2 separate regions of the Homo sapiens genome follow, and region 2 is linked to region 1. Evidence: fine-mapped expression QTL. A gene starts in region 1. The other region holds a variant in brackets. All regions are shown on one strand. Distances are from middle to middle.

What was found. PIP is the estimated chance that this variant, and not a neighbour inherited with it, causes the effect.
Region 2: its variant is fine-mapped to the expression of UVSSA in tibial nerve (GTEx, PIP 0.98).

The regions. Positions count from the first base shown.
Region 1 is chr4:1,336,590-1,351,404 of GRCh38, forward strand. UVSSA (UV stimulated scaffold protein A) reads left to right here and starts at 10,619. Exons shown (of 14, transcript NM_020894.4): 1 at 10,619-11,171; 2 at 11,501-11,600; 3 at 12,935-13,265. The coding sequence starts at 11,503. It overlaps MAEA (macrophage erythroblast attacher, E3 ubiquitin ligase), which reads left to right. Exons shown (of 9, transcript NM_001017405.3): 7 at 272-405; 8 at 1,833-2,028; 9 at 2,485-3,548. The coding sequence ends at 2,580. RefSeq lists enhancers at 2,593-3,111, 8,336-8,859, 8,860-9,382, 11,228-11,307 and silencers at 9,678-9,767, 9,988-10,317, 10,558-10,997, 14,362-14,530.
Region 2 is chr4:1,381,239-1,396,053 of GRCh38, forward strand. UVSSA (UV stimulated scaffold protein A) reads left to right here. Exons shown (of 14, transcript NM_020894.4): 13 at 2,528-2,702; 14 at 4,630-6,811. The coding sequence ends at 4,723. Among named protein-coding and RNA genes, the nearest start is that of NKX1-1, 18 kb to the right of the region's middle. RefSeq lists enhancers at 13,199-14,398, 13,999-14,739. The variant G/A (reference allele first, on the strand shown) is at 3,078.

The sequences.
Region 1 (14,815 bases):
ACTGACCCTGTAGCATGTTGAAATCAGAGTTAAGTCAGCACTCATCCCGCAGCATGTTGAAATCATAGTTAAGTCAGCACTCATCCCACTGTGTGTATCAGTCAACACTTGAGGGAGTTATGCTTTGTGCTGACCCTTAGTGCAAAGTGTGTGGGTCACTGGGGGATGGCTGTGGGCCGATGGCACCTGCTTCACCATGGTCCACGTTTTTAAGCTGTCCCAGGAGCTTCCCTGGGAGCATCCCCAGGACCCTCTGCTCTCTGTCTTCCAGGACCTTCTGGACCCTGCACGGTGGCGGATGCTGATCCAGCAGTTCCGGTACGACAACTACCGACTACACCAGCTGGGAAACAATTCTGTGTTCACCCTCACCCTGCAGGCTGGCCTCTCAGCCATCAAGACACCGTATCCTACCTCCCGTGCGCAGTGCGGTTTGGCCTGGGGTTGGCATCTTTGGTCATATTTTAACACGCTGACCCTGCACCTTGCCACTCTTGTCCTCCCACCACAGACAGCCCCGAGCTCCCGTGTGCTGCACTTGCGTGGTGTCTGGATGGTCGGGGTGGGGCCGTGTTGAGGGGCCTCGGATGCGTCGTGCAGCCTTCACTCTGGGAAGTGGCGCGCTTCCTCTCTCATCATCTCAGAGGCCGCCATGGGCATTGATCTAAAAGCCCGATTTTGATGTGTTCTGGCAGCCGGCAGATTACCATTCAGAATAGTTTTCCCGTGTGATTACCAAGAACCTTGCCTGTGACTGACTCTGTCCCGCCTGTGACTGACTCTGTCCCACCTGTGACCGACTCTGTCTGCCTGTGACTCTGTCCCTGCCTGTGACTGACTCCATCCTGCCTGTGACTCTGTCCCACCTGCGACTCACTGAGTTCCTGCCTGTGACTCACTCGGCTCCCGCCTGCAACGGACTTGGTCCCTGCCTGCGACTCACTGTGGCCCTGCCTGTGACTGAGTCTGTCCCGTTTGTGACTGATTCCTTCCTGTGACTGACTCTGTCCCACCTGCAACTGACTTCTTCCTGCCTGTGACAGACTCTGCCCCTGCCTGCGACTGAGTCTGTCCCTTCCTGCAACTGAGTCCATCCCGCCTGTGACTCTGTCCTCGCCTGTGACTGACTCTGCCCCTGCCCTGTGACTGTCTCACCTGTGACTGACTCCGTCCTGCCTGTGACTCAGCCTCTTACTGACTCTACCCCTGCCTGTGACTGACTCTGCCCTCTCCTGTGACTGACTCTGTCCCCACCTGTGACTGACTCTGTCCCCACCTGTGACTGACTGTCCTCCTGCAACTGACTCTGTCCCCGCCTATGAATGTCTTTCATGTGACCTGCCTCAGGCCCAGAGGGCAGTGAGTGTTTCGCGATTGCTGCTGGTACCTGGCTGTGCCGGGGTATGAATGAGACTCAGGCCCCCTCCCTTGTCCCCTCTTTGTGGAACTCTGGGCGAGAGGGCTGGCGTGCTTGCCCACTGCCTGTTCCTAGGTGCCAGCAGAACGTCCCTGCTGGGTGGCTCTTGTCCTGCCTGGAGAGGTTGCGTGGCCGGGGAGAGGGCGGCGGGCGACGGAGCCACTCTGTGCCTGTGGTCCTGGTGCTGGAGGCCGGGGTGAGAAGGCGCAGGCTTCTTGTCTCCACCGAGGCCTCAGTGGGGCTGTTTAGCTGTCGAGTGCAGCACTTCCTGTGCCTCGAAAGACAGCCCCGTGTAGTCAGCATGGCGCCCACATAGCCAGAAGGGCACGCAGCCCAGGGCAGAGTGGCCACAGGGGGCTGGGCTCACCCCGGCTGCCCTGAGTGGCCCCCAACCCTTCCTTGACCCGATGCTCAGACAGTGCTACAAGGAGGACGGCAGCTCCAAGAGCCCTGACTGCCCTGTGTGCAGCCGCTCCCTGAACAAGCTGGCGCAGCCCCTGCCCATGGCCCACTGTGCCAACTCCCGCCTGGTCTGCAAGATTTCTGGCGACGTGATGAACGAGAACAATCCGCCCATGATGCTGCCCAACGGCTACGTCTACGGCTACAATGTGAGGGGGGCAGGGCAGGGGGGCCAGGCTGGCACGCATCGCCATCGGGACAGGGCTGTGTGGGACGGGCAGGGCAGGGGGGCCAGGCTGGCACGCATCGCCATCGGGACAGGGCTGTGTGGGACGGGCAGGGCGGGGGGCCAGGCTGGCACGCGTCGCCATCGGGACAGGGCTGTGTGGGGCGGGCAGGGCAGCGGGGCCAGGCTGGCACACGTCGCCATTGGGACAGGGCTGTCCTCTCGCCCCACCCTGCCTTAGCTTCGTTCGAAATGGATGAAGGGGTGGGAAGGACAGGCGAGGTGGCCCCGGGATTTCTTTGGCAGGTGTGCCTTCGGGAAGGAACTTTGCCTGAGAGGATGAGTCATTCCCTGGTGGTTCATTGTGGGGATTTTCCATGGAAATCCGTGTGTACGTTGTAGTCGCTTGCCTTAATGCATTCCCGGTTTTATTTTTCAGTCTCTGCTTTCTATCCGTCAAGATGATAAAGTCGTGTGCCCGAGAACCAAAGAAGTCTTCCACTTCTCACAAGCCGAGAAGGTGTACATCATGTAGGCCCCACGTCGTGAAGCGCACGCCTCGGGGACGGGCTGCAGTGGGCGGGGAGGCCACGCCTTCCTCCTGTCCCACGCTCCAGCCTGCCGCGGCGTTTCTGTTTCTTGCGACCAAAGATCCGTGAGCAACGATAAATACTCTTAGGAAGAGAGAAAATAAGGTTTCATAAGTTTGTACTTGAAAACATTTGGATTGGTAGGATTTTGTAACACGTCAACCATTTGATGCTTCTGAAAAGTACTTTCAACTTGCGAAGGAAACTCTTCTTTAAAGACTGACCTAAACACCGAGGGAAACTTAAGAACGTTTAAAATATAGGAGTCCGTGATTTCCCTGTGTTTTCAGTTTCTTTCCTTCTGTGAACGATGAGACTTGGAGAACGGGCTGGTCCTTCACCACTTCCTGTTGGCCCTGGCCTGGCCGGGGAAGGTGGCAGCGGCACCGGACTGACCTGCAGTGACCCGCGATGCCGCGCCACGAGGGACACTTATGGCTTCATTCGAGAGCTGCTGCCAAAACGCCTGGCGCCGCCACCGTCGGGGGCTGGCTTCGAGGACGCCCGCCTGCCTCGCGGGTCGTGTCCGCGGGACTGTGTTCGTACGTGCATAGTTTCGATATCACATCGCGGGGCTGTGTTCGTAGCTGCGTCGTTTCGATATCACACCCTCTGTGTGCCGCCTTACTTCCTGCTTCGAGAATGTATAACGTGGAAATCCACGGGACCAAATTTCTGCAGAGGCCTTGCCGGATGGTTCCATAACTGTAGAGTCTAATTGCTATCCATTACAGAAATTAATCGTTCAGTTGAAAGAAGTACTGATGACTTTTCAAAACAAATGAACCACCGTAGCTGACAGAGAACCGTATCGTAGAGGTTTGTAGTTAGTGCTTATTTTTGCATGTTGATGTTGACTAGCTAATAAACTGTAAATGTAAACCATGCGAATAAAATGGTTTTCTATTTCTCATTTCCGTGTGAGCCGAGGCTGCCGTGCGTTTCTAACACCGAGGTTGTGTTCTGCTCCTCCCCGGGGCCCGGGCAGCATGGCGGGCATATGCGTAGCTTCTGGCACCACGGCCACCGGGAGTTGAGAAGCCGGCTGGAGGCCACTCCTGCCCGGACCGCAGTCCTCCTCTCGGGCGCTGCCCTGAGGCGTGATGGCCCCAGCGTCTTGAGGCCCCGGCTTGCAGCTGGGTGAATCAGACACTGGTTCCTGGGACCCACGGGCCATTGTCTGTTGGGGGTGGGGGCTCAGGCTGCAGCCACCAGCAAGCCTGGGCCTGCGGCTTGGGCTGAGTCTAGGGTTGGGCTAAGGAGGCCTGCGGGCTGTGGCCACTGGCCCTTCCCCCCACCGCCCACCCCTGTTCTCTCCAGTGCCCCGTCGCAGCTCCTGTGGCCAGCCTGGTGCCCCTTAGCCCATCTCTTACCCCATGGTGGCTGCCCTGGCCCCTCCACAGCACCCAGCTGGAACCCACCACATTCCCACGTGCTCTTCTTTGGAGCGCCCGTCCCCAGGTCCCCTCGGCCGAAGCAGACCCTGTGGCCCCACTGCCACGCAGCCGCCCCGGCCTCCACCGTCCTCACGTGCAGGGGCTTTCCTTGTCTTGCGTCCTGTTCTTTCCTTTTTAACTCGAGTAGAACATACTGGAGCACACACATTCTAAGTTCACATAACGAATTTCTGTGTAACATGCATGTAACCACCAAACAGACTGTTCCCAGCCCCTGGCCTTGCCCGGTCAATATCCTGGTCAGTCATCATTGGAGTGGCGCACCCCGGCCCTGAGCTCCTCGAACACAGAGCCACATGGCGTGGGTCCGTGGCTCAGCGTTACTCGGCGGCTCAGCCCTGGCACGGCAAAGTCTTGCCTGGTTACAGGCCTGTGCTCTCCAGGCAGAACAAGCGCAGCGGCCTGGCCCCTCTCCCGCCGGTGGACATCAGGCGGTGTCCAGGTAAAGCTGCTGTGAGCACTCCGGGAGGTGACCCTTGCTGGACGCATCATTCTTTTGTGGGGAGATGCCGAGGAGTTGCCATTGCTGGGCCACGTGTCCACTCAGCAGACACTGACGGTTTGTTAAAGGGGTTGCACCCACTTCTGCCCATCTGCTCCACATCCACACCAGCGAGTGGCACTGGGAGTCTTGAATGTGAGATGTTTTGTTGGTTGTGTTATCTCGCTGTACTCTTTCTCAATTGAGGTAAAAATTACATACACCAAAATGCACATACAAGTAAAAGCTACTCAATGAGTCTTAATAAATGTACCTCCATGTGACCACCACTGAAGCCCAGGCATGGAACGTCCCCATGGCCCCAGAAAGGGACCCCTTGTACCTTCTGAGTTATCCACAACCCCTACACAAAATCATTGCTCTAATTTTTGTCACCGTAGGTGAGCTGTGCCTCCATAGGTGTCAGATGGTGGAATGTGGACACTGGTGGATCTGGCTTGTTTCCACAGACGCTTGTGAGGTTCATGCCTGTTGCACATGTCAGCAGTTCCGTCCTTAGGTGTTGCTGAGTGGAGTGATAGTAATCCATGTATGCACAGACCACAGTGTACACCAGGCTGGAGTGCAGTGGCGCAATCTTGGCTCACAGCAATCTCTGCCTCTCGGGTTCAAGCGATTCTCCTGCCTCAGCCTCCCGAGTAGCTGGGATTACAAGTGCACACCACCACACCCAGCTAATTTTTGTATTTTTAGTAGAGACGGGGTTTCACCATGTTGGCCAGGATGGTCTCAATCTCCTGACCTCATGATCTGCCTGCCTTAGCCTCCCAAAGTGCTGGGGTTACAGGTGTGAGCCACTGCGCCCGGCCTGTATCCATTCTCTTGATAGACATCTGGGTTGTTCCCTATTTGGGGCTATAATAAGTAAACCTCTTATGAACATTTGTGTGCCAGTCTTCTTGCAGACATTATTTTCATTTCTTTGGGAAGTAATTCTCTGGAAGTAGAAGGAACTGAGTCATGGTGTGTTTATGTTTAACTGTACCACAACTGCCAAAGATTTATCCAAAGTTGGTGGTAGTGTTTTACACTCCAGCAGCAGTGTGAGGATTCCAGTGGCCCCACATTGTTGTCAACACTTGGTAGTGTCAGGTTAGTCATTCAGGTGGGTGTGCACTGGGGCCACAGTGTGATTTTCCCTTGCTTTTCTTTGATGTCTGATTTTGACCTGATGCGCTGATTGTAATTTACATATTTGTCTATTGCTCATTTTAAATTGCATTATCTTACTGATTTGTAGGGATTCCTCACATACAAATCCTTTGAGGGATATGTGTATTTATACTTTATTGACTGTCATTTGATCAGCAGATTTTTTAAGTTTTAGTGCAGTTCAATTTATTCTTTCTTTTGTGGCTAATGCTTTTCTATGTTCTAAAAAAAAAATCTGCCTATTCCAGGGTTGCAATAATATATCTTCCAGAAGATTCAGTTTCGGCTTTTAAGTCTGTAACACATCTCTTAACTTGTGTGTGTTGTGTGAGGAAGAGCCTGAGGATGATTCCCCACCATCCCATATGTTTACTCTATTGTTCTAACACCATTTGTTAAAAAGACCTTTCTTATCCCGTTGAATAACGTTGGCTCCATTAGAAAAAATTCCTGGCTGTGTTAAGTTGGGGTTTATTTCTGGACACTACCTTCTGTTAGACTGGCCTTTAGGTCTATCCTTGTCCTAACACCACATTATCTTAACTATTGCCGTTTTAAGGCAAATCTTGAAACCAGGGGGTATGATGAGTCCTCCAGTTCTGCTTTTTCAGAATGGTCTTGGTGGTCCTAGGTCTGTTGCATTTCCACGCACGTTGTAAAATCAACTCATCAGTGTCTGCTGAACACTGTAAAAAGTGTGCTGGGATTGTCACTGGAACTGCAGTGAACCTATCATCCCTATTTGGGGACGGTATTAGTTTGCTCGGCTGCCGTAACAGAAGACCACGGACTAGCGGGTTTAAACAATGGACATTTATTTCTTCACGGTTCTAGAGGAGATGCTGGCAGGGTTGGCTCCCGGTGAGGCCTCTCTTCCCGGCTTGCAGACGGCCCCCTTCTCACTGTGTACCTCTCGTGGTGGACTTCCTCCTGTGCACACACATCTCAGGAGTCTCTTCATCTTACGAGGACATCAGTCCTATCAGATGAGGGCTCTATCCCTAGAATCTCATTTAACGTTCCCCTCTTTAAAGGCCTCATCTCCAAATAAAGTCACATTGGAGGTTAGGGCTTCGACATAGGAATTTGGTAGGCAGGGGCCACAATTCAGTCCATAACAAGGACTTATAAATCATAACAATATTGAGTCCTCAACCCATGAATATGGTATATCTTCCTGCAGATTTAGATCCTTCTCGCATCTAAGGTATTGCCACCTCCAGGAGGCAGATCATGAGGTCAGGAATTCGAGACCAGCCTGACCAACATGGTGAAACCCTGTCTCCACTAAAAATACACAAATTAGCCAGGCGTGGTGGCACGTGCCTGTAATCCCAGCTACTCGGGAGGCTGAGGCAGGAAAATCGCTTGAACCCAGAGGGCAGAGGTTGCAGTGAGCCAAGATCGCACCATTGCACTCCAGCCTGGGTGACAAGAGTGAAACTCCGTCTCAAAAAAAAAAAGTATTTATAGAACTTTTCATTCCTTTTATAAAGTTTGCCTCTGGTATCATTTTCCTTTCATCTGAAGAGCATCCTATAACAGTTCCTGGACTGCAAATCTGCTGGTCATAATTCATGCAGCTTTTGTCTGAAAATGCTTTTACATCACCTCAGTTTTTAAAGGCTATATTGCTGCATATACAGTTCTAGATTGACAGTATTTTTTCTTTTACCACCTTAAAGATGTTCCATTTTCTTCTGGCTTTTTTTTTTGGGTGGAGGGGGAGGAGGGGACAAGAAATCCTTGGCTTCTTTGTGCCTGTATGTCATACGCCTTGTTTAATCTGACTGCTTCTAAGATTTGTCACTAGTTTTCTGCAATTTAAGATGTGCCTTGGGTGGTTTTCTTTGTTTATCCTGCTTGGGTTTTATCATCTCTAAGTTTCCATTGGTTCTTTTAAAATATCTTTTAGAAGTATCTTCTAATTCTTGGCTTGGTGCAGTGGCTCATGCCTGTAATCCCAACACTTTCGGAGGCTGAGGTGGGCAGATCACTTGAGGCCAGGAGTTCGAGACCAGCCTGGCCAATATGGTGAAACCCTGTTTCTACTAAAAATACAAAAATTAGCTGGGCGTGGTGGTGGGCGCCTGTAATCCCAGCTATTTGGGAGGCCAAGACACGAGAATCATTTGAACCTGGGAGGCAGAGGTTGCAGTGAGCCGAGATCACACCACTGCACTCCAGCCTGGGCGACAGAGCAAGACTCTGTCTCAAACAAAAACAAACAAGAATATCGTCTAACTCTCATCATGATTTATCTTGGCTTTCTAATCTTATCCAGCATTCAACAAATATTGAGCACCTGCTTTTTGTCTGGCTTCATGAAACAAAGATCCCTATTTTCAGGGACTGTATGTTTTAGGAGTGAAGAGAAAAAAGCGAATCACCTAGTAAGACAGTAAGTCTGTGTGACACAAGGGCCAGAAGTGCCCTGGGAACAAGCACGGCAGGTTTAGAAAACGGATGGGGGGTGTTGAGCCAGGGAGGTGAGCGGGTGCAGAAGTATTTGCTCAGGGTGAGACATGAGCAGTGGCTGGAAGGAGGCAAGGAACTCTGTGGATACTGGCAGAAGCTTCCCGGCAGAGGGATCCGCTCCCCAGAGGCCGTGTGGCAGCAAGAGCAGGCTGGAGAAGTCAACCGGTGGGATGCAGGGGGCAGCAAACACAGGCCACGACAGGTTTTGCCTTGCCCTGGGATGGGAGCCGTCGGAGGATTTTGTGTAGAGGAATCCTGTGATCCGACCTTAGACTTTCAAAGGTCCCTCTGGTTGCTGCATGATGGTCTAGGGGTACCAGGGTGCAAGGGAAAGACAAGGTGACGGCAGTGACCTGCTGCAGGGGTGGCCAGGAATTGGCAGTGGCAATGAGGCAGTGGGACGTGCTCAGATCTGGATGTGTTCTGAAGGTAGGGCTGTCAGGATTTGCAAACCAAATGGGCATGGAGTGAGAGGAAGAGAGAAGCCCAAGTGAGTCAGATAATTGGTCCAAGCGAACAGAAGGATGCAGGGCAGGCCCAGGCACGGTGGCCCAGGCACGGTGGCTCACGCCTGTAATCCCAGCACTTTGGGAGGCCGAGGCGGGCGGATCACCTGAAGTCAGGAGTTCGAGACCAGCCTGACCAACATGGTGAAACCCCGTCTCTACTAAAAATTCAAAAATGAGCTGGGCGTGGTGGCGGGTGACTGTCATCCCAGCTACTCGGGAGGCTGAGGCAGGAGAATCGTTTGAACCCGGGAGGCGGAGGCTGCAGTGAACCGCGATCGTGCCACTGCACTCCAGCCTGGGTGACAAAGCGAGACTTTGTCTCAAAAAAAAAAAAAAAAAAAAAAAAAAAAAAGGCTGCAGGGCCATCAGCGGATACAGAGGGCAGTGGACGGGCAGCTTGGCTGTGCTGTTGAGCCTGAGGGCTGAGAGGACACCCCGGGGCAGTGTAAAGGAGACTGGACTTAGCAATTGGTAAGAAAAGTTGGATAAAGAGAGGGTTTTGTTAGTATGGGAGAAACGGCACCCTTTTATACTAATGAGAACTAGTAACAACAAAAAAAACCACGCTGTAGAAGACAGAGGGAAACTGCTGGATGGGTGCCTTGGAGGAAGCCACAGGCCGGGGATTGGATGCACAGGGCAAGGGGCGCTGAGGGAGGGTCTGGCTGCAGCTTGCTCAGTGAAGCAAGAGGCAGGGTGAGGAAGGGGTGAGGCGGAGGAGCGGCTCGGGGCTGGCTGCAAGCTAGGAGCTGGGAGCCACTGACGCCCAGGGACAGAAGCTGGTGCTGCAGAGAGGGGCGGCGCAGGGAGTCCCTCTTCTTTTCCTTTTTAAAATAATTGCTTTACTGAGATATAACTCACACATCCTGAAACCCACCCTGTAAAAACACGATTAACAGAGTTGTGAGCTACCACCACCGTAATGCAAGGGCACGCCCATCCCCCCGAAAAAGAAACCCCGGCCCGCCGCCGGCGGCCCCCGCCCTGCACCCAGCCCCGGGAGCCCAGTCGGGCGTCTGCTCTGCGTGGCCTGTGCCGGGCGCCCCGCGAGTGGGGTCCACACCACGCTCCTCCGAAGCCACGGTTTCCCAAGCGCGGTCTCCAGGTCCGTCCGTCCGCAGCCGACCTCGCACTCCCCTGCGTTCGAGGCTGCGGACTTCGGCGGCAGGACGGACGGCGCCTCTGCTTCTCATTCCGCCCAGGGCCAGCCCGGGCCCAGGGGTACCTGCTGTGCGTCTGGCGCCGAGGTGGGCCCCGAAGACCCCCAAGCCCGCCCAGGGATTCCCTTCCCGAGGCCGGAGCGGGGAGGCGCCGCGGGGTTCAGGGCGCCCTGCGCGGGGCGAGCTCGGGGGCGGGGGCCCGCGCCCGCCCGTCTGGGCGGTCCTCACCGGCCCTCTGCAGGTGAAGGGACCTGGCTGCGAGCCCGCGGGCGGGCGTGGCGTTGAGGCCCAGACCGGAACTTCCTTTCGGCCTCAGTTTCCCGGCCGGCCCCGCCCCCGGCGCCCGTACATGCGGCCCCTTTAAGGACTTTCTGCGCCCTCCCGCCTCTTTTTTCTCGTGCGTCCCCCTCCCCACCCCCGGCAGCCTGCCTCGCCCTCGCCGGGAGCGCGCCTACGTCACCGCGCAGACCTCGGCCGCGTCTTTGCGCCTGCGCCTCCTGGGCTGGGGTGAGCCATTGGCTGTCGAGCTCAGGGCACGTGCTAGGGGGCGGGGCCTTGACCGGAAAGGGTGGGGCAACGGCGAGAAAGGCCGCGTCGAGCGGTAGGTGCAGTCGTCGCTGTGGTGACCCCAGGTCCTGATGCGTCCGGCCCAGGGCCAGCCAATGGCGGTAGAGGTCTTGGGCACCTGACAAGAGGGGCGGTCCCCCCGCCGGAAGGGGCGGGGCGAGGCGAGCGGCCGCGTCAGCGGTAGGTGGGGCTGTGGTTACGCTGCCGGGCGGGGGTCGCGCCGGTTCGGTCCCCGGGGCTCTGCGGGCGCCGGGCAGAGACCTGCGGCCAGGGCGTGTCCCGTGTGCCCGAGAGCGCCGGCGGCGGGGCCGGAGGGCGGGCCCTGGGCCGAGTGACAGGCCGCAGCCCCCCGAGCACCGTCGAAGCCGGCGCGCCCGCCCGGTGCAGCCGCTGTGCGAGAGCGACCCCGCGGTCCAAGCCTCGCGTGGCCCTGCCGGGCCCCTTCTTTCCCCGAGTAGGGCGCAGCTTCCCAGCCTCCGCCCCGGCCTCGCCTGGCGCTTCCTTCCGGGTCCTTCGGCCTTTCCCTGGCGGTGCGGCAGGCCCTCGCCTCATCCCACCAGGCACGCCGCGGTGCTCGGCCCTGGGTATCCGGGCAGGCTGCCTCCGTTAGGGCCGCCCCTGCTCTCCGGACGCGACTTTTCATTGGTCTCAGAATTTCTTGGCTCCTCTTGGCCTCTGCAGCCTTGCTGGAGGCTGCCCTGCGGAATCTGAGTGAATAAGGGAAACAGCAACAGTCACGTTGGGGAAAAGCTGATTCGGACAGCGCCACTGGTTCCTTTAACGCACGACCCTCAATGCAGCGTCCCACACACGGGATTGTAGAGGTCCCGAGTTTAAGGTTCACTTTTAAAACTGCAATCACCGCCGTAAAGGCCTTGCTGGACACACATATTTCCCAGAGAGGCACCCACAGATGGACCCCAGCCTCAGGGTCCTCCCGGAGCTTTCGGTTTATAGTGGAACCCAGTAAACACGTTAATAACACCGAGAGCTATAAAATACAGATGGTGATATAGCATCTCTGCCTTACTTATTTCTAGATATGGATCAGAAACTTTCGAAGTTGGTAGAAGAGCTCACAACTTCAGGAGAACCCCGACTAAATCCTGAGAAAATGAAGGAACTGAAGAAAATTTGCAAGTATGTCTTAGGGTTCAGTAACAGTAACTGACTGGCCCACTGAGCCCAGGACACACACAGGGCCCTGCCCTCCTGCCCCCACCTGGGAGAGAACCACCCGAGGGACACACCCAGGACATTTTCTCGGGGCCCTGCAGTACCCGGCTCTGACGGGTGGTCATGTTCTGGGGTCGGGGCGTGTGGCGTTGGGGACCCCACTGCTCTGTGGTTGGTGCTTCTCTTCATTCCCATTTGTGTGGTCTGGAGCACATCCTGTAGGAGTTCTTGAGTGCACAAATGTGATTCAGAGAGAAACGTGCATCTTTTTCTTTGCTGCTGGACTTTTCGAAGGGAAAGAATAGAGCTTGCTGATGGGCGAGTTGGTCCATCGCCTTTAGGGTATGTCCACCTCTGTTCACTTCCTCCAAGGAAAACGCCGGAGGGGATCTCTGCCGTCACCCTCAGGCAGCCAGAGATTCATGGGGGAAGCAAAACTTCCCCTCGGAGGGTGGAGCATAAGTCGAGGACACTGATTATTCTGTATCCTGTGTTTGTAAAATGGCAGTTTATAGATTGTTTATACAGTGATGGAGTGTTGACATTTTGATAGAAAATTTCAGGTCAGGTTTTGTGGCCTGCGCCAGGAAATCGAATTCGCAATGGTTTATGTGGGGTCAGGAGCTGGGAATAGGAGCATTCAGGAGGGGCTGGGAGATGTCCCGAGCTCTAGGCCTTCCTTCCTTCCTGCAGCAGGAGGCACCCAGCTGAAACAGTGTGCGTGCTGGGCGGTGTGCGTTGTGCCAGGCGGTGTGTGTTTGTGCCGGGCGGTGTGCGTTGTGCCGGGCGGTGTGCGGTTTGTGCCAGGCGGTGTGTGTTTGTGCCGGGCGGTTGGCGTTTGTGCCGGGCGGTGGGCGTTTGTGCCGGGCGGTGTGTGTTGCGCTAGGTAACGTGTGTTTAAAGAGCCAGATGGTTTGTGTTTCAGGCTTTGCTGTAATGCCTCAGTTGTGAACACAGCTGTAGATGATGTAGGTGGATAGATGGGCGACGTTCCAATGACACTTTGTGAATGAACACCGACATTTGAAGTGTATATGATTTTCACATTTCACCAAGTATTTTTTGTTTGTATTGACATTCTTGGCTTGTGGGCCACACAGAAACAGGCAGGGGCTGGGGAGGTAGATGTGGCCCTTGGGCAGTAGTTTGCAGACCCTGCTCTAGAAAAGGGGAGAATGAAGATGGGAAGGCAGTGGTGGTCCCTGCCACACGTGCGTGCGGCATCCATGCACGGAGAGTCTCCCCCCGCCCATCCTCTGCGTGTGGGGCAGTTGGGTCAGGCCAGCTCGCATCCCCAGGTCTTCAGAGGAGCAGCTGAGCCGCGCCTACCGCCTGCTGATAGCACAGCTGACCCAGGAGCACGCCGAGATCCGTCTCTCAGCCTTCCAGATTGTGGAGGAACTCTTCGTCAGGTCTCACCAGTTCCGGATGCTGGTTGTTTCCAACTTCCAGGAGTTCCTGGAGCTCACGCTGGGCACAGACCCCGCACAGCCTCTGCCGCCCCCCAGGGAGGCGGCACAGAGGCTGAGGCAGGCGACCACCCGGGCCGTGGAAGGGTGGAATGAGAAGTTTGGGGAGGCCTACAAGAAGCTTGCCTTGGGCTACCACTTCTTAAGACACAACAAAAAGGTAGGTGGGCCTGGCCCATTTTTTCAGAGACTGGTTACCTGACGTGAGGAGGGCAGACGATACCAGGGTGAAGATGCGCCTCCTGTTGAACCTAGCACAGCAGGGGCCTGCTTGGCCTTGCCTGAACACCCAGGCTGCCAGACCATCTGTGGGGTGTGGGAAAGAGGGCAGCATCTAGGGTCACGGCCTCCCTGAGAGGGGCGGCGCAGCTCTGAGAGGAAGAGCATAAGCTTTATGTGTGGGTGGAGCTGAGGCTGCATGTGTCATTTTTTATGTGCGTGTAGGAGACAAAGGAAAAGCCAAATCCAACTTTTCAGATGCAACGTTTTCTGTGACAGTGGCCCCTGGACTCTGGGACCTGTCCCAACCTTGCACTTTAAGGCTCCACCCGCACCCTACTATGGGCTCGGGCTGGTGCCTGGCATGATGAAACCCACCAGGATCTGCCACTGTGGCCTGAACCCAGCCTCATTGCCCAGACCCTACCGTGCCCCTTACCCCACCTGCCACGAAGGCTCAGTCCTCCCCAGTGCAATGACCCAGCCCTGCTGGCTTCCCTGTGTGCCCTTGGAGTGCCCTGTCTCCCAGGGTTCATGCTCAGGGTTTGTTTCAGACTCCTGGGTCCAGTCAGCAGCCTCTGCCTGCTAATGGAACAAGCACACTGCTCTCCTACCTGTGAGGTACTTGGGGTGAGAAGTCTCGTCACCTCTTTTAAGTTAGCAGACGTGCTGGCTTTCCCGGGCTCAGACAGCAGAGAGACGTGCATTGTGTTTTGTTGTAATGCACTGTGAACACCTGGGTGTGAGGGTGCACACCCACAGTCCCACTGACTCTGGAAGCCGAGGCTGGTGGATCACCTGGTCCTGGGAGTTTGAGTCCAGCCTTGGTAACACAGCAAGACCGTTGTCTCTTAAAAAAAAAAAAAAAAACTACTGTGAACTTACAGACGCATAGGGCTCTTGGCCACGCATGGGTGCTGTCTTTTGTTAGGCCTACTTGAGCTTTATCTTCCTCACATTCTGTATAGATAGCTCTAGTTTTTGTTGTTGTTGTTGATGATGTTGTTTTTGAGACAGGGTCTTGGTTTGTCACCCAGGCTAGAGTGCAGTGGCGCGATCTCGGCTCACTGCAACCTCCGCCTCCCTGGTCCAAGTGATCCTCCTGCCTCAGCCTCCCAAGTAGCTGGGACTACAGGCACACGCCACCACACCTGGCTATTTTTTGTTTTTAAGATGGAGTATTGCTTTGTTGCCCAGGTTGGAGTGCAGTGGTGCGATCTCAGCTCACTGCAAGCTCCACCTCCCGGGTTCACGCCATTCTCCTGCCTCAGCCTCCCAAGTAGCTGGGACTACAAGCACCCCCCACCACGCCCGGCTAATTTTTGTATTTTTAGTAGAGATGGGATTTCACCGTGTTAGCCAGGATGGTCTCAATCTCCTGACCTTGTGACCCACCTGCTTCGGCCTCCCAAAGTGCTGGGGTGACAGGCATGAGCCACTGTGCTGGGCCAGCCCTAGTCTTTATTTTCTTTCTTTTTTTTTTTTTCTTTG
Region 2 (14,815 bases), 45 kb after region 1:
CACCCACGGCCCCGAAGCCACAGGTGCCATCTGTGTGGCTGGGTCCTGCTTCCCTCGTGTTTTCAGGCAGGTGAAGGCCTTAAGGCGAGAGAAGTGATTGGGCTGAGCCCAGAGTGGCTTCTAGGAACCCCTCTGGCCTCCTCAGCCATACCCCGCACCTGCCTCAGTGTGCAGGTGGCCACAGCTCTGTCCAGGAGGCGTGTGGCCACTGCTATGGCGGCAGGAGTGCGGGTGCCCAGAGGCCCTGGACAGCAAGGCCACTGTGGGGCAGCACTGCCACATCAGCAGGGCCCATCTGCCCACCCTGTCTCACCCCAGGCCCATCTGCCCGCCCTGCCTCCCCTCGGGCCCATCTGCCCACCCTGCATATCTGTTTTCCAAGGAAGATTTGTTTTTAGAGGCCCTGGCCAGCCTCAGGCGCTCTCTCTTCTTTTTACTTTGATTTGGCTTTTTTTTTTTTTTTTTTTGAAGCAGGGTCTCTCTCTGTCACCCAGGCTAGAGTGCAGTGGCGCAGTCATGGCCTCCCAGGTTCGAGCGATCCTCGTGCCTCAGCCTGCCAAGTAGCTGGAATTATCATGCCACCATGCCCGACTAATTTTTGTATTTTTATTTTTAGTAGAGGTGGGGTGGCACTGTATTGCCCAAGCTGGTCTTGAACTCCTGCATTCTCCTGTCTCACCTCCCAAAATGCTGGGATTACAGATGTGAGTCCCCGCCCGGCCTCGGTCCCTTCTGGAGAGTGGCCACACCTGCAGGCCTGGCCCTGGCCCGAAGTGGGGGTTCACACCTTGTCTTGAAGAGCAGCTCTGGGGGCCCAGGATCCCTTCCAAGCTGTCTCTGTCATGGCTCCCGGGTGTCTTGCACTCTGGTCATGAGAGGCAGATGTTGAGTGCAGCCTGATGCCCAGAGGCAGCAGCTCAGCCCTGGGCGGCGGGAGGGCCCTGACCTGCTAATCTCCGGGTGAGGCCTTCCCTGGTGGCTCACACTCAGGAGCAAATTAAGTGCCTATTTTTTGTGTCAACCCTGAAGAGTATCTGGTTTTCCAGCCCTTGGTGACTTGTTAACAAACAGGTATCAGGCCGCGGGCTGCGGCCAGCGCTGGCCAGTCAGATGTGAAATAGTGTCTCTTTACTAACTACGGTATTGATCCCCGCCTCCCTCGCGCACGGCGCAATTTTCCTTTCCCTGGTGCTAACCTCAGTGACAATGTGCGTGCTGCTGCAGGGCCCGTCAGCGCCCAGGAAGGCCGCGCGGTCCCAGCATCTATTGATTTTCCTCAAAGGCTTTTAAATTGCTCCTTCATTTCACTGAGACGCTCGCTCCATCTCTGCTGGGTGCCGGGGCTTTTTCGTTGTGTTTAAACAATTGCTCCATTCACCGGGTTCCTAAACTGTGGCGCCTTCTTATTACTGGGAGATAAACTGTTTGGACAGTTTTCCTTAATCTTGGATTAATCGTTCCTGTATCTGAATTGTGGGCCCCGTATTCCTTCACTTCAAAGAATCCGCTTGGGAGGCCTGGCCATCCGTCCGAGATGTGGGCATTCCTCCGGGGATGTGCCCCCGTGGCCTGGTCGCCCCCGTGGCCTGGTCCCACTGGCTCAGCTCGTGGGGTCCTGTCTGCAGGAGCGGGTGCCTCTGTAGCATTGGTGCCTGGCCCCCTTCTGTGAGCCAGGGTTGTCTGTAAGTCCCATGGCCATCACAGTCCCGTCAGGGGTGGCCTTCCCGAGCCCGACCAGCACCACACCTGGTGGAGGCCCACCTCCGCCTTGTGTGGGGAACCCCACAGGAAGCCTGGGCCTGTGACCCCCGAGGGCCTCAGTGCCATCTGCACGGTGGGTACTCTCAGCCTGGGAGGCTGCCCAGTGGGGCTGTTGACATTTCTGTCCCCTCACTGCCACAGGGCCTCAAGCAGACAATGCACGGCTTGCTTGGGAAGGGCAGTTCTGTCTAGGAGAGCCCCAGCCTGCATTTCTGAGGCCTGAGGCCAGGTCATCTTTGGATCAACGAAAAAGAAAAGCCCTTTGCTGAGCATCATGCTTGGCCCAGCCCTGCCACACGTACCTCCCCACCAGCAGGCGTGTCCAGCAGGGCCACAGTTTGCCTAGTGGGGCACGGTCCAGCCTGCAGGCAGGAAAGGAGCTTGCGGATGGTGCCACCCCCCAACCGCTGGCCTTAGCCGCCTTCCAGCCTGGGAGGCCCATGGGTGCCCTAGGAGTGGCCTCTGGGCTGAGCCCCTGCTCCCCATCTCTGGGCTGCAGGGGCCTGTGGGGGTGTGGGGCGGTGGGGGCAAGCTCTGTGTCACCTTCACCCTGTGGGGGCCAGCATGCCCACCCTCCCCAGCCTGTTGCTCAGGGAACCCTAACCGCTGAGCATCCTCTCAGGCTTGCTGCTGCCAGGGTACGGCCGTGGGCAAGGCGACCCAGCCCCCCTGTCAGGACGAGACCAAGAGCCCCTCCTGGGGGCCTCGGGTAAGAGGCTCTGGTCAGTGCCAGACGTCTCCTGAAGTGCTTGAGTTTTGTTTGCAGAATGGCAGGACCCTGAGTTGATGAGAGACGTGGAAGCAGCCACAGGGCAGGATCTCGGCTCATCCAGGTACAGCGGGAAAGGCAGGGGGAAGAAGAGGAGGTACCCCAGCCTCACCAACCTGAAGGCTCAGGCTGATACCGCCCGCGCTCGCATTGGGAGAAAAGTCTTCGCCAAGTAAGAGTGGCTGCTGGGTCACCTCCCACCGCGTGGCCCCCCCGTGTGAGGGTGTTCGAGGGGGGCCATCTGAGCGCCAAGATATTCCAGGGACTTGGGGCCTCCAGGGGCTCCCCTGCTTTGAGTTCCCCTGGGGGACCACCCAGCCTTTCCCCGGGGAGGGGCAGTGCCAGCCAGCAGGGGCAGCAGGCAGGTCTGCTCAGGAACGCCCCCCAGCATTCCCCAGGATAAGAGGGGCTCGACCGCCAGGCACCGCCATCCTCGCTTCCTGGGGGAGCCATGCCAGGACACAGGCCTTGGCTGGTGCAGAGTGAGCCCCTCGTCTCTCCCTTGCCTGGCTGTACCCCCAGGTCAGTGCCTGCGTATTTCTGCAGC[G/A]GTGACTTCAGGGAGGGCGATGACTGCAAAGGCGGGCAGAACGGGGGTCCACGCGTCAGCCCCAGCAGAGCCCAGCCCCAGCATGTCTTCTCTGAGCACTGGCTCTGGGAGGCTGGCCTGGTGTCTCTGCAGCCCAGCATGGGCCTGTGTGACTGGTGAGGACTTGGCAGGGCCAGAGTGCGAAGCCCACCAGCCCGGCGTCCCTGCGTGCAGTCTGTCAGCTGGGGCACCAGCCACTCGCACGGCCTTGTGTTTCTGTCTTCATATTGCCTTGTTCTCGCCTAAGAAAATCCAGAATGCTTGTTTAGAAGCCACCTGAGGCTGTTGACTCCCTCCCAAATCTGTGTCAAGTCCCTGCTGGTGCAGGTTTGTCTGGTAGCACCAGTGAGGTGGCCCCCACCCATCGCCATCCCAGAAACCCTCCCTTGGACACACCTGGAAGGTGCTAAGTGCACCGGGCAGAGGAGGCCCCTCCTGGCCAGCATGACCGTGCACCGGCCTGAGTGGGCTCGGGTGGGAGGCGCCTTCACAGCACTCAGACCAGGCTTCCCCCAGGCTTGTGGGTGGTACATCCACAGCCTTGCTTGGGTGGGGCAGGGGCGCTGGTGGGGGCTGTGGAGAGGCTGCCTGGGGCCCCTGGCACAGGGCTGGACCCATCCCGTATGCCAGCCACCCAAGGCACCTTAGCCCTTGGAGCTCAGGGTGAGGCTGTTTTCCCGTGGATCAGCCAGGGGCAGAGGCCAGCCTTGGTGCTGATGCCCAGGAGGAGGAATGGCCAGTGGGCCCATGCCAGGCCTCCTCCCTGTGTCTCATGGGGACACTGAAGCCCATGGCAGGAGCTGGCTCTTCGCCACAGCTGTGTGGCCCAGACCCCTCCCTACAGAAAGGATCTGGGGTGACCACAGGCAAAACCCTGCCTCGAGGGGCCCCCACAGCAGCGCCTGGCAGCCCCACAGGGGCCGCAGCTGAGCGGCAGCTTCACCACATTGTGGCCTCAGGCCCTGCTGGCTCCACAGCTCCACACCCTCGTGGGTCGCAGCAGCTGAGCTGGTCAGCACAGCACACCTCATCCTGCTCCCCGGAATGCCTGCCTGGCCCGTGCCCCCCCTGCTGCAGCCCTCCAGGTTTCCAGCCCTGGCCGTGGAGCCGTGCGTGCAGCAGCGGGCAGGGCTGTCCTGACGCCTCCTGGCTGCATCTCCTGCGAGGCCGCTCCCCGGGAGGCCAAGGGGGAGGCTGCCCTCATCCTGGAGTGCGGGAGGCCACGGGAGAAGTGCCAAGGTGGGGCTGGGGCCACCTTCACCGCGCAGAACCACCCGCCGCAGACTCCGCTTCTGGGACCTGGGGCGGCCCTTTCTAAGCCTGTCTGTCTCGGGCCAGGGCCAAGGGGCCCGTCGCCCATCTGTCTCTGAAGGTGGCACCCACAGGCAGTCTGTCAGTGTCCGAGGGCAGCAGTTGCCCCAGGACCAGTGCCTAACTTTGGTGATGCCGCCACTGGGAGCCCAGGCCCCTGGCGGAAGCCTCCCAGGTCACATCTTGCCTTGTTTCCCCACAGGGCAGCTGTGCGGAGGGTAGTGGCAGCCATGAACCGGATGGACCAGAAGAAGCACGAGAAGTTTTCAAACCAGTTTAACTACGCACTGAACTAGAGAGCGGGGCCCAGTGCACTGGCCATCAGCACTTTCTCCCTCTGCCAGTGTCTCAGGACAGCAGAGTGGGCGTGGGTCTGGGCAGTAACCATGCTTTGTCTATTACTGTGTTTGATGTAAAGAAATGGTGTGTTGCAATGCCCTGAAGGTACGGCCGCTCTGCTGCTACAGGGTTCGGCATCGTCTGGTGATGGGTCTGGCCTCGCAGAAGAGGCCCTCGGGCCTGGAGATGTGAACACAGGCAGCGACCCTGTTCCAGAGGGCTTCTGCGAGTCCTCGTGAGACCAGTGCTTGTCGTGGTGTGGGGTTCAGCACGGACGGAATGTGTGTGCAGCTCAGCCTTCAGAGCGTGCATTCCCCAGCCAGGAGGCGACCACTCAGAGGAACTCTGGGAAACCCACTTTTGTGCAAATGCTGTTTTTAACACAAACACAAAGGCTAGTGAACCGTTCAGTCATCTGCTTTCTGTTTCTGGATGTGCCTTTTCATACATGTGTCCTCTTGTCCCTGGCTTCTTACACTTGGCGTTGTTTTTAAGGTTTATCCATGCAGTTCCCCTCCAATGTATAAAACAAAGGAGGTGAAAACCTGTCCATGCGGAAGCTTGTGCACCCATGTTCACAGCAGCATTGGAGAAGGATACCGAACATCTTCTCGTGGGCTTACTGGCCATTTGTGTATCTCCTTTGGAGAGGAGTCTATTCAAACCTCTTGCCTATTTTTAATTGAATGATTTATCTTGAGTTGTAACAGTTGTTTTTTTTGTTTTTCCTTTTAGAGATGGGCTTTTGCTCTTACCCAGGCTGAGTGCAGTGGCAGAATCATAGCTCAGTGCAGCCTCAAACTCCTGGGCTCAAGCCATCCTTCCACGTCAGCCTCCCAGGTAGCTGGGACTACAGGCACACACCACAACACCTGGCTAATTTTTTAAATTTTTTGTAGAGATGAGGTCTCACTGTGTTGCCCACGGTGATCTCGAACTCCTAGCCTCAAGCGATCCTCCTGCTTCGGTCTCCCAAAGTGTTGGGATTACAGGCATGAGCCACCACTCCTGGCCAGGAGTTTATATGTATACTGTGGATACTAGATCCTCATGTGATTTGCAAAAACTTTATTTATTTATTTATTTATTTTTGAAATGGAATCTTGCTCTGTCGCCAGGCTGGAGTGCAATGGCGTGATCTCGGCTCACTGCAACTACCACCTCCTGGGTTCAAGCGATTCGCCTGCGTCAGCGTCCTGAGTAGCTGGGACTACAGGCGCGCACCACCACGCCCAGCTAATTTTTGTATTTTTAGTAGAGACGGGATTTCACTGTGTTGGCTGGGATGGTCTTGATCTCTTGACCTCGTGATCCACCCACCTCGGCCTCCCATAGTGCTGGGATTACAGGTGTGAGCCACCGCACTCAGCTGATTTGCAAAAACTTTCTTCCATACTGTTGTTTCACTTTCTGGATAGTGTCCTCTGAAGCACAAAAGTTAATTTTGATGAAGTACAGCAATTTATCTGTTTTTTTCTTTTGTTGCTTATGCTTTTGCTGTCACATTTCAGAAGCCATCACCTAATCCAAGATCACAGAGATTTACACCTAGTTTCTAATAAGCATTTTATAATTTCAGCTCTTATGTGTAGATCTTTGATCCATTGTGAATTAAGTTTTGTGTGTGGTGTAAGAGCCCACATTCTTTTGCATGTGGATATCCAGTTGTCCCAGCACCATTTGTTGAAAACATTATTTTTCCCCATTGAATTATCTTCGCACCATTATTGATAATCAGTTGACCAAAAATGTACAGGCTTATTTCTGGGCACTTGACTCTATTCCATTGACCTGTTTAACCTTATGCCAGTGCCACAGTGCCTTGATCAGTGCTGCTTTGTTGTGAGAAGTTTTACTTTGTTCTGCTTCAAGGCTGTTTTGACTCTTCTGCATCTCTTGCATTTCCAAATGAATTTTAGGATCCACTCATCAGTTTCTTCAAAAAAAAAAAAAAAGCAGCTGAGATTTTTGATAGGAATTACATTAAATCTAGAGATTGCTTTGGAATGTATTACCGTCTTAATATTAAATCTTCTGAGTCATGAGCTTCTGATTATCTTTCCATTTATTTGGGTCTTTTTAAATTTATTTCAACAGTATTTTGTAGTTTTCAGTATATAAGTTTCTCACTTATTTTGTTAAATTTACTCATATTTTATTATTTTTGATTTATAACCAAAAGGACTATAAATGCAATTATAAATTATTAAAAGATTATAAATTGCATTTACAAAAGCAATCACAAATGTAATTGTTTTCCAAATTTCACTTTGGGGCTGATCATTGCTAATATGTGGAAGTACAACTGACTTTTGTGTATTGATCTTGTATCCAGCATTCCTTGCTGAACTTGTTTATTCATTCTAATTAGTTGTATGTTCCCTAAGATTTTCCATACACAAAATCATGTCATCTGCAAACAGCTTTCTTTCTAATCTGGATTTCTTTTATTTCTCTTACCTAATTGCTCTGGCTAGTACCTCCAGGACAATGTTGAATAGATGTGGTGAGAACAGACATCCTCGTCTTACTCTTGATCTTAGCGGGAAGCTTTCGGTCTCTCACCATTGAATGTGATGCTAACAATGCAGTTTTGTGTAGATGCTTCTATCAGGTTGAAAAAGTTACCTTCTCCTCCTAGTTTGTTGAGTGTTTTTGTCATAAAGTATTGAATTTTGTCAGATGCTTTTTCTCCATCTGTCGAGATGATAGTATGATTCTTGTCCTTTATTATAGTGATACAGTATATTACATTGTTTCTCATATATTGAACCGACCTTGCATTCATGGGGCAAATTCTACTTGTTCATGGTGTATAATCCTTTTTCTATGCTGCTGGCTTTGGTTTGCTAGGATTTTGCATCTGTATTCATGAGGGATATTGGGCTGTAGTCTTTTTGTGATGTCTTTAGCTTTAGTCACGTCACTACTGACCTCATAGATTGAGGTGGGAAGTGTTCCCTCCCCTCCTATTTTTTGGAAGAGTTTGTGAAAGATTGTTGTTAATTATTTAAACATTTGGTGGAATTTACCAGTGAAGGCTGGGCTTTTCTTTGTGGGATTTTTTTCCCTAATTCAGTATCTTCATTTATTATAGATCTGTTTAGTTCCAGTAGTTTGCATCTTTCCAGGAGTTTGTCCCTTTCTAGGTTCTTTGTTGCAATCTGTTCATATATAATGGTTCATAGCATTAAAAAAAATTTTTTTAACTGACAAGGTCTCACTCTGTTGCCCAGGCTGGAGTGCAGTGGTGCAATCATAGCTCACTCCAACCTCAGACTCATGGGCCCAAGTGATCCTCCCACCTCAGCCTCCCCAGTAGGAAGGACCACAGGCATGCACCACCACATTCAGCTAATTTTCTGTCTTTGGTTTTGTTTTGTTTGAGACAGAGTCTTGCTCTGTCACCCAGGCTGGAGTACAGTAGCACAATCATGGCTCACTACAGCTTTGACCTCCCAGACTCAAGCAATCTTCCCATCTCAGCTTCCTGAGTAGCTAAGACTACAGGGGCATGGCAGTATGACTGGCTAATTTTTTAAAAGCTTATTTTTGGTAGAGATGGGGTCTCACTATGTTGGCTAGGCTGGTCTCAAACTCCTGGCCTCAAGAAATTTTCCTGTCTTAGCCTAGCAAAGTGCTGGGATTACAGGCATGAGCCACCACACCCAGCCCTAATTTTCTTTAAAATTTTTTTGTGGAGACAGGATCTTGCTGTGTTGTCCAGGCTGATCTTTGTCAAACTCCTGGCCTCAAGTGACCCTCCCACCTTGACCTCTCAAAGTGCTGGGATTGTGGATGTTAGCCAATGCTCCCAGCCTATTCATAGTATTTTCTGGTTTTAGTAATTTGATTCTTCTCTCTTTTACTCCCCTTAGTCTAGCTAAAGATTTATCAATTTTGTTGATCTATTTAAAGAAACAACTTCTGGTTTTGTTTATTATCCCCTATGATTTTCCATTCTTTATTTTGTTAATTTCCACTGTAATCTTTATTATTTCCTTTGGGTTGCTTTGGGTTTTATTTTCTCTTCTTTTTCTTGTTTCTTAAGATGGAAAATTAGCTTACTGATTTGAAATCTTTTTCATATAGACATTTGTAGCTATAAATTTTTATCTCAGCACTGATTTACTTCATCCCTTAAGTTCTGCTATATTGTGTTTTCCCTTTTTTAAATCTAAAAGTATATTCTGATTTTTCTGGTGATTTCTTCTTTTATCTCTTGGTTATTTAAGAGTTTGTTGTTTAATTTCCACATATATGTGAATTTCCCAGGTTTCCTTCTGTTATTGACTTCTTTTCTTATTTTTGAGAGACAAGATCTCACTTTATCTCCCAGGCTGGAGTGCAGTGCAGTGATCGCAGCTCACTGCAGCCTTGACCTCCCACCTCAGCCTCCTGAGTAGCTGAGACTACAGGCATGAGCCACCAAGCCTGGCTAAATTTTTAAAAATTTTGTTGTAGAGACAGGGTCCGACTATGTTGCCCAGGCTGTGTTGGAACTCCTGGGCTCAAGTGATCCTGCCACTTTTGCCTCCCAAAGTGCTGGGATTACAAGCATGAGCTACCATACCTGGCCTGTTACTGATTTCTTATTTCACTCCATTATGGCTAAAAAACATAGATTGTATGATTTCTCGTCTTTTATATGTATTGAGAGTTATTTTATTGGCATACCGTATTTTCTGTCCCAGAGTGTTGAAGAATATCTATCCTGCTCTTGTTGGGTGGAGTGTTGTATAGATGCCTGTTGGGTCTGATTGGTTTGTAGTGTTGTATAGACACCTGTTGGGTCAGAGGTTGGTTTGTAGTGTTGTATAGATGCCTGTTGGGTCTGATTGGTTTGTAGTGTTGTATAGATGCCTGTTGGGTCAGAGGTTGGTTTGTAGTGTTGTATAGATGCCTGTTGGGTCTGATTGGTTTGTAGTGTTGTATAGATGCCTGTTGGGTCTGATTGGTTTGTAGAGTTGTATAGATGTGTGTTGGGTCTCATTGGTTTGTAGTGTTGCATAGAAGCCTGTTGGGTCAGAGGTTGGTTTGTAGTGTTGTATAGATGCCTGCTGGGTCTGATTGGTTTGTAGGGTTGTATAGATGCATGTTGGGTCTGATTGGTTTGTAGTGTTATATGGATGCCTGTTGGGTCTGATTGGTTTCTAGTGTTGTATAGATGCCTGTTGGGTCAGAGGTTGGTTTGTAGTGTTGTATAGATGCCTGTTGGGTCAGAGGTTGGTGTGTGTGTTGTATAGATGCCTGTTGGGTCAGAGGTTGGTTTGTAGTGTTGTATAGAAGCCTGTTGGGTCTGATTGGTTTGTAGTGTTGTATAGAAGCCTGTTAGGTCTGATTGGTTTGTAGTCTGATTGTTTATGTCTTCTCTTCCCTTATTGATCTTCTGCCCAGTTATATTGATATTGAATGTGAGGTATTGAATCCTTCAGTTTTGTCAGCTTTTGTTTCATAAATTTTGAAGCTCTGTTAAGTGCATCTGTATTTCTATTTCTTTCTGATGAACAGACCCTTTTATCATTATGACATGTCCTTCTTTGTCTTTAGTGAAAAAAAAATGTCTTTAAGTCCCTTTTGTATGTTATTAGTATAGCCACTTAGCTCTTTTTTGATTATTGTTTGCATGGTATCTTTTTTCACCCTTTAACTTTCATTGTATCTCTGAATCTAAAGTGTGTTTCTTGTAAACAGCATATAGTGGGATCATGTTTCTTATCTGTCCTGCTGGTCTCTGCCGTGAATCTAAAGTGTGTTTCTTGTAAACAGCATATAGTAGGATAGTGTTTCTCATCTGTCTTTCTGGTCTCTGCTCTGAATCAAAAGTGTGTTTCTTGTAGACAGCACATAGTGGGATCATGTTTTTCATCTGTCCTGCTGGTCTCTGCTGTTTGAGAGGGATGTTTAATCCATTTACATTCAGTGTGATTACTGAGAAAGTTGGATTTGTATCTGCCATTTCTAAATTTGTTTACTATATTGTCTTTTTTGTCTTTCTTCCTTTATTTCTCCATTACTTTTTTGTGTTAAATGGACATTTAATTCTCTTGTAACATTGTAATTTCCTTGTCTGTTTTACTGGGTTTTTTTAAAAGTAACTTTCTTAGCAGCTGCTCTGAGTATTACAGTAACAACGTAAAACCAATCAAGTGTTCAGATGAACTTAATATAATGTACAAAAACCTTCACTTCAAGTAGCTTTGTTTCCTCTCAGCTTCTTGGTGCTGTATTTGTCATATAAATGCTACCTTTTAGATTGTAAGTCCGTCAGCAGTCTTGTAATTATTGCTTTATGCAGTTGTCTTTTAAATCACATAGAAGAAGAAAAGATGTACAAACAGAAATGAGTTTCTGCTGTCTCTGTTGCTGGCTTTGCAGTTGTCTTTTTTGGTGCTCTTTGTGTGGATTTGAGTGTGGTGTCTTGGACTTCAGCCTCAAGTATTTCTTGTAGGACAGATCTTCTAGCAATGAATTCTCTTTGTTTTTGTTTATCTGAGAATGTTGTAATTTTTCCTTCTCTTCTGAAGAATAATTGTGCTGGATATGGCTGACTTGGTTGGCCCTCTTTTTCTTTCAGTCCTCTATAGATGTCATTCCACTGCCTCTGGCATCTGTGGTTTCCATGGCGGGAGCACCGCACCATGTCTCAGTCTCTTTTTAGCTTCTGACTGTTTGACTGTGGTGTGTCTAATTGTGGATCTTTCAGTGTGTCCTACCTGCAGTTCTTTGAGCTTCTTGGATATAGAGGTTAATATTTCTTGTAGTCTGATTGTTTACATCTTCTCTTCACTTATTGATCTTCTGCCTAGTTATATTGATATTGAATGTGGGTATTGAATCCTTCGGTTTTGTCAGCTTCATGTTCAGCCAGTGACTGGACAGGGGACCCCTTTAAGTGCTTTGCACCAGTAACTCTCATGGTTCTGCTGACACACAGTTGATGTGTGGTGAGTATGCCTTCAGCGCTCCATTGTGGTTCTGCAAATTTGGGAAATTTTAGGTTGTCGTTTCTCGAAATATTTTATGTCCATGTTCTCTTCCCCCACTTGGACTCCAGCTACGTGTGTTGATGTGGAGCTGGGCACAGCCTTGGAGGCCTCCTTGACTTTCCTTTATTCCGGAATTTTTTCTTCTTCTCAGAATGGGTCATCTCAGTTGACCTATCTTCAAGGTCACAGATGCTTTTGCCAAACAAAACCTGATGTCAAGCTGCTCTAGTGAATTTTTCATTTCAGTTATTGTACTTTTCTACTCCAAACTTCCATTTGGCTCTCTCCTATAATTTCTGTATCTTTACTCATATTCTTTGTTTAGTGAAACATTCTCATACTTTAATTCTGTAGACACAGTTTCCTTTAGTTATTTGAACATATGTGTAGAAGCTGATTTAAAGTACTTGTCTAAGCCGGGCGTGGTGGTGTGCACCTGTAATCCCAGCTACTTGGGAGGCAGAGGCAGGAGAATTGCTTGAACCCGGGAGGCAGAGGTTGCAGTGAGCCAGGATCAAGCCATTGTACTCCAGCCTGGGCCACAGAGCGAGACGCTTTCAAAACTAGATAGATAGATAGATTAGATAGATAGATAGATAGATAGATAGATAGATAGATAGATAGGATAAGATAAGATAGATAGGTGACTTGTCTACTAAGTTCAACATCAGGGCTTATTCAGGGGAAGTTCCTATTGATGACCTTTTTTCCCATGTCAGAGCCAAGGAAATAACATACTCTTTCTTTGTGGTCTCATATATATGTATTTTTTGAAGACTGGACACTTTAATAATGTGCTGTGCAACTCTGGAAATCAGATACCCTCTCCACGAGTTTATTGTTGTTCTGTTGCTGTTACCTTTTGTTTAGTGTGTGTTCTGGACTAATTTGAAGTGTCCACCTCATCAGCTTCATGTTCAGCCAGTGACTGGACAGAGGACCCCTTTAAGTGCTTTGCACCAGTAACTCTCACGGTTCTGCCGACACGCAGTTGATGCATGGTGAGTGTGCCTTCAGCGCTCCATCGCGGTTCTGCTGACACGCAGTTGATATGTGGTCAGTGCTCCAGCAGGCAGCTGCCAACTGTGCCTTTGCCTTCACTTCTTACTTGCACACAGCCACAAAGCCAGCCAGAGGTGAGGGCCAGGGCAGCTCAGGTTCCTCTCGGGCACACACACAGCTCTGTGCCTGTGTGGGCACAGCCTTCCATGCCTCCAGGAGTGTGGCAGAGCTTCTCAGCGGCCACTGTGGGCATCTCGTTCCTCAGATCTTCCTTTCATGAGTTATGTAGTTGAATTATCAATCTTTCTTGGCTTCTAAGTTTTGTGTTCTACTTAGAATGCTCTTCCCCCTTAAAGATTATATTTGAAATGTTTTCCATGTTTTCTTCTAGTACTTTTATGGGTTTCATTTTCATATTGAAATCATTGATCTACTTCTAGTTTTTGATACAAAATGTGAGCCAGGAAACCCAGTTTTTAAATTTCAAATAGCTGTCCAGGTGTCCCTGCACCTCTTATGCATGAGCCCTCGCTTTGTGCCAATGTGGAGTGCCCGCCTGCTCACACGTGCCCATGTGGAGTGCCCGCCTGCTCATGTGCCCATGTGGAGTGCCCGCCTGCTCACACATGTCGATGCGGAGTGCCCGCCTGCTCACACATGCCCATGTGGAGTGCCCGCCTGCTCACACGTGCCCATGTGGAGTGCCCGCCTGCTCACACACGTGTCCATGTGGAGTGCCCACCTGCTCATGTGCCCATGTGGAGTGCCCACCTGCTCACATGTGCCGATGTGGAGTGCCACCTGCTCACACACGTGCCCATGTGGAGTGCCCGCCTGCTCACGTGCCCATGTGGAGTGCCCGCCTGCTCACACGTGCCGATGCGGAGTGCCCGCCTGCTCACACGTGCCCATGCGGAGTGCCCGCCTGCTCACACGTGCCCATGCGGAGTGCCCGCCTGCTCACACGTGCCCATGCGGAGTGCCCGCCTGCTCACACGTGCCGACGTGGAGTGCCCGCCTGCTCACACGTGCCCATGTGGAGTGCCCGCCTGCTCACACGTGCCAACGTGGAGTGCCCGCCTGATCACACGTGCCCATGTGGAGTGCTCGCCTGCTCACACGTGCCGATGTGGAGTGCCTGCCTGCTCACACGTGCCCATGTGGAGTGTTCGCCTGCTCACACGTGCCGATGCGGAGTGCCCGCCTGCTCACACGTGCCGATGCGGAGTGCCCGCCTGCTCACACGTGCCCATGTGGAGTGCCCGCCTGCTCACGTGCCGATGTGGAGTGCCCGCCTGCTCACACGTGCCCATGTGGAGTGCCCGCCTGCTCACGTGCCGATGTGGGGTGCCCGCCTGCTCACATGTGCCGATGTGGAGTGCCCGCCTGCTCACACGTGCCCATGTGGAGTGCCCGCCTGCTCACACGTGCCGACGTGGAGTGCCCGCCTGCTCACGTGCCCATATGGAGTGCCCGCCTGCTCACACGTGCCATTGTGGAGTGCCCGCCTGCTCACACACATGCCGATGTGGAGTGCCCGCCTGCTCACACGTGCCCATGTGGAGTGCCCGCCTGCTCACACGTGCCCATGTGGAGTGCCCGCCTGCTCACACACGTGCCCATGTGGAGTGCCCGCCTGCTCACACGTGCCCATGTGGAGTGCCTGCCTGCTCACACACGTGCCCATGTGGAGTGCCCGCCTGCTCACACAAAGCCCTGGCATGGTGGTTCTGTAGGTTTCCTGTCCTGCCGGCCGAGTCAGACGCTGTTACCGTACATTCTACTCATGGTGGCTTTTTAATACGTTTTTATGTCAAGGATCCCTTTTATATTTCTCTGCACCTCGAGATAACGTAGGAATATTAGGGATGAGATGGAAGAGGAGAGGGTGTTTTTGTAAAATTGAATTCAGGACTGATTTGTTAGCCTGGTGCTTTTCGTATCAGACCTTTTAATGAATTTTCATGGATGCTGATTAAAAGACAAACCTGTGACTCAGTGTTTGTGACCAAGTGAGGGGCCCTGTGGGGTGGGGGTGCTGGGCCGGCCCTTCTGGCT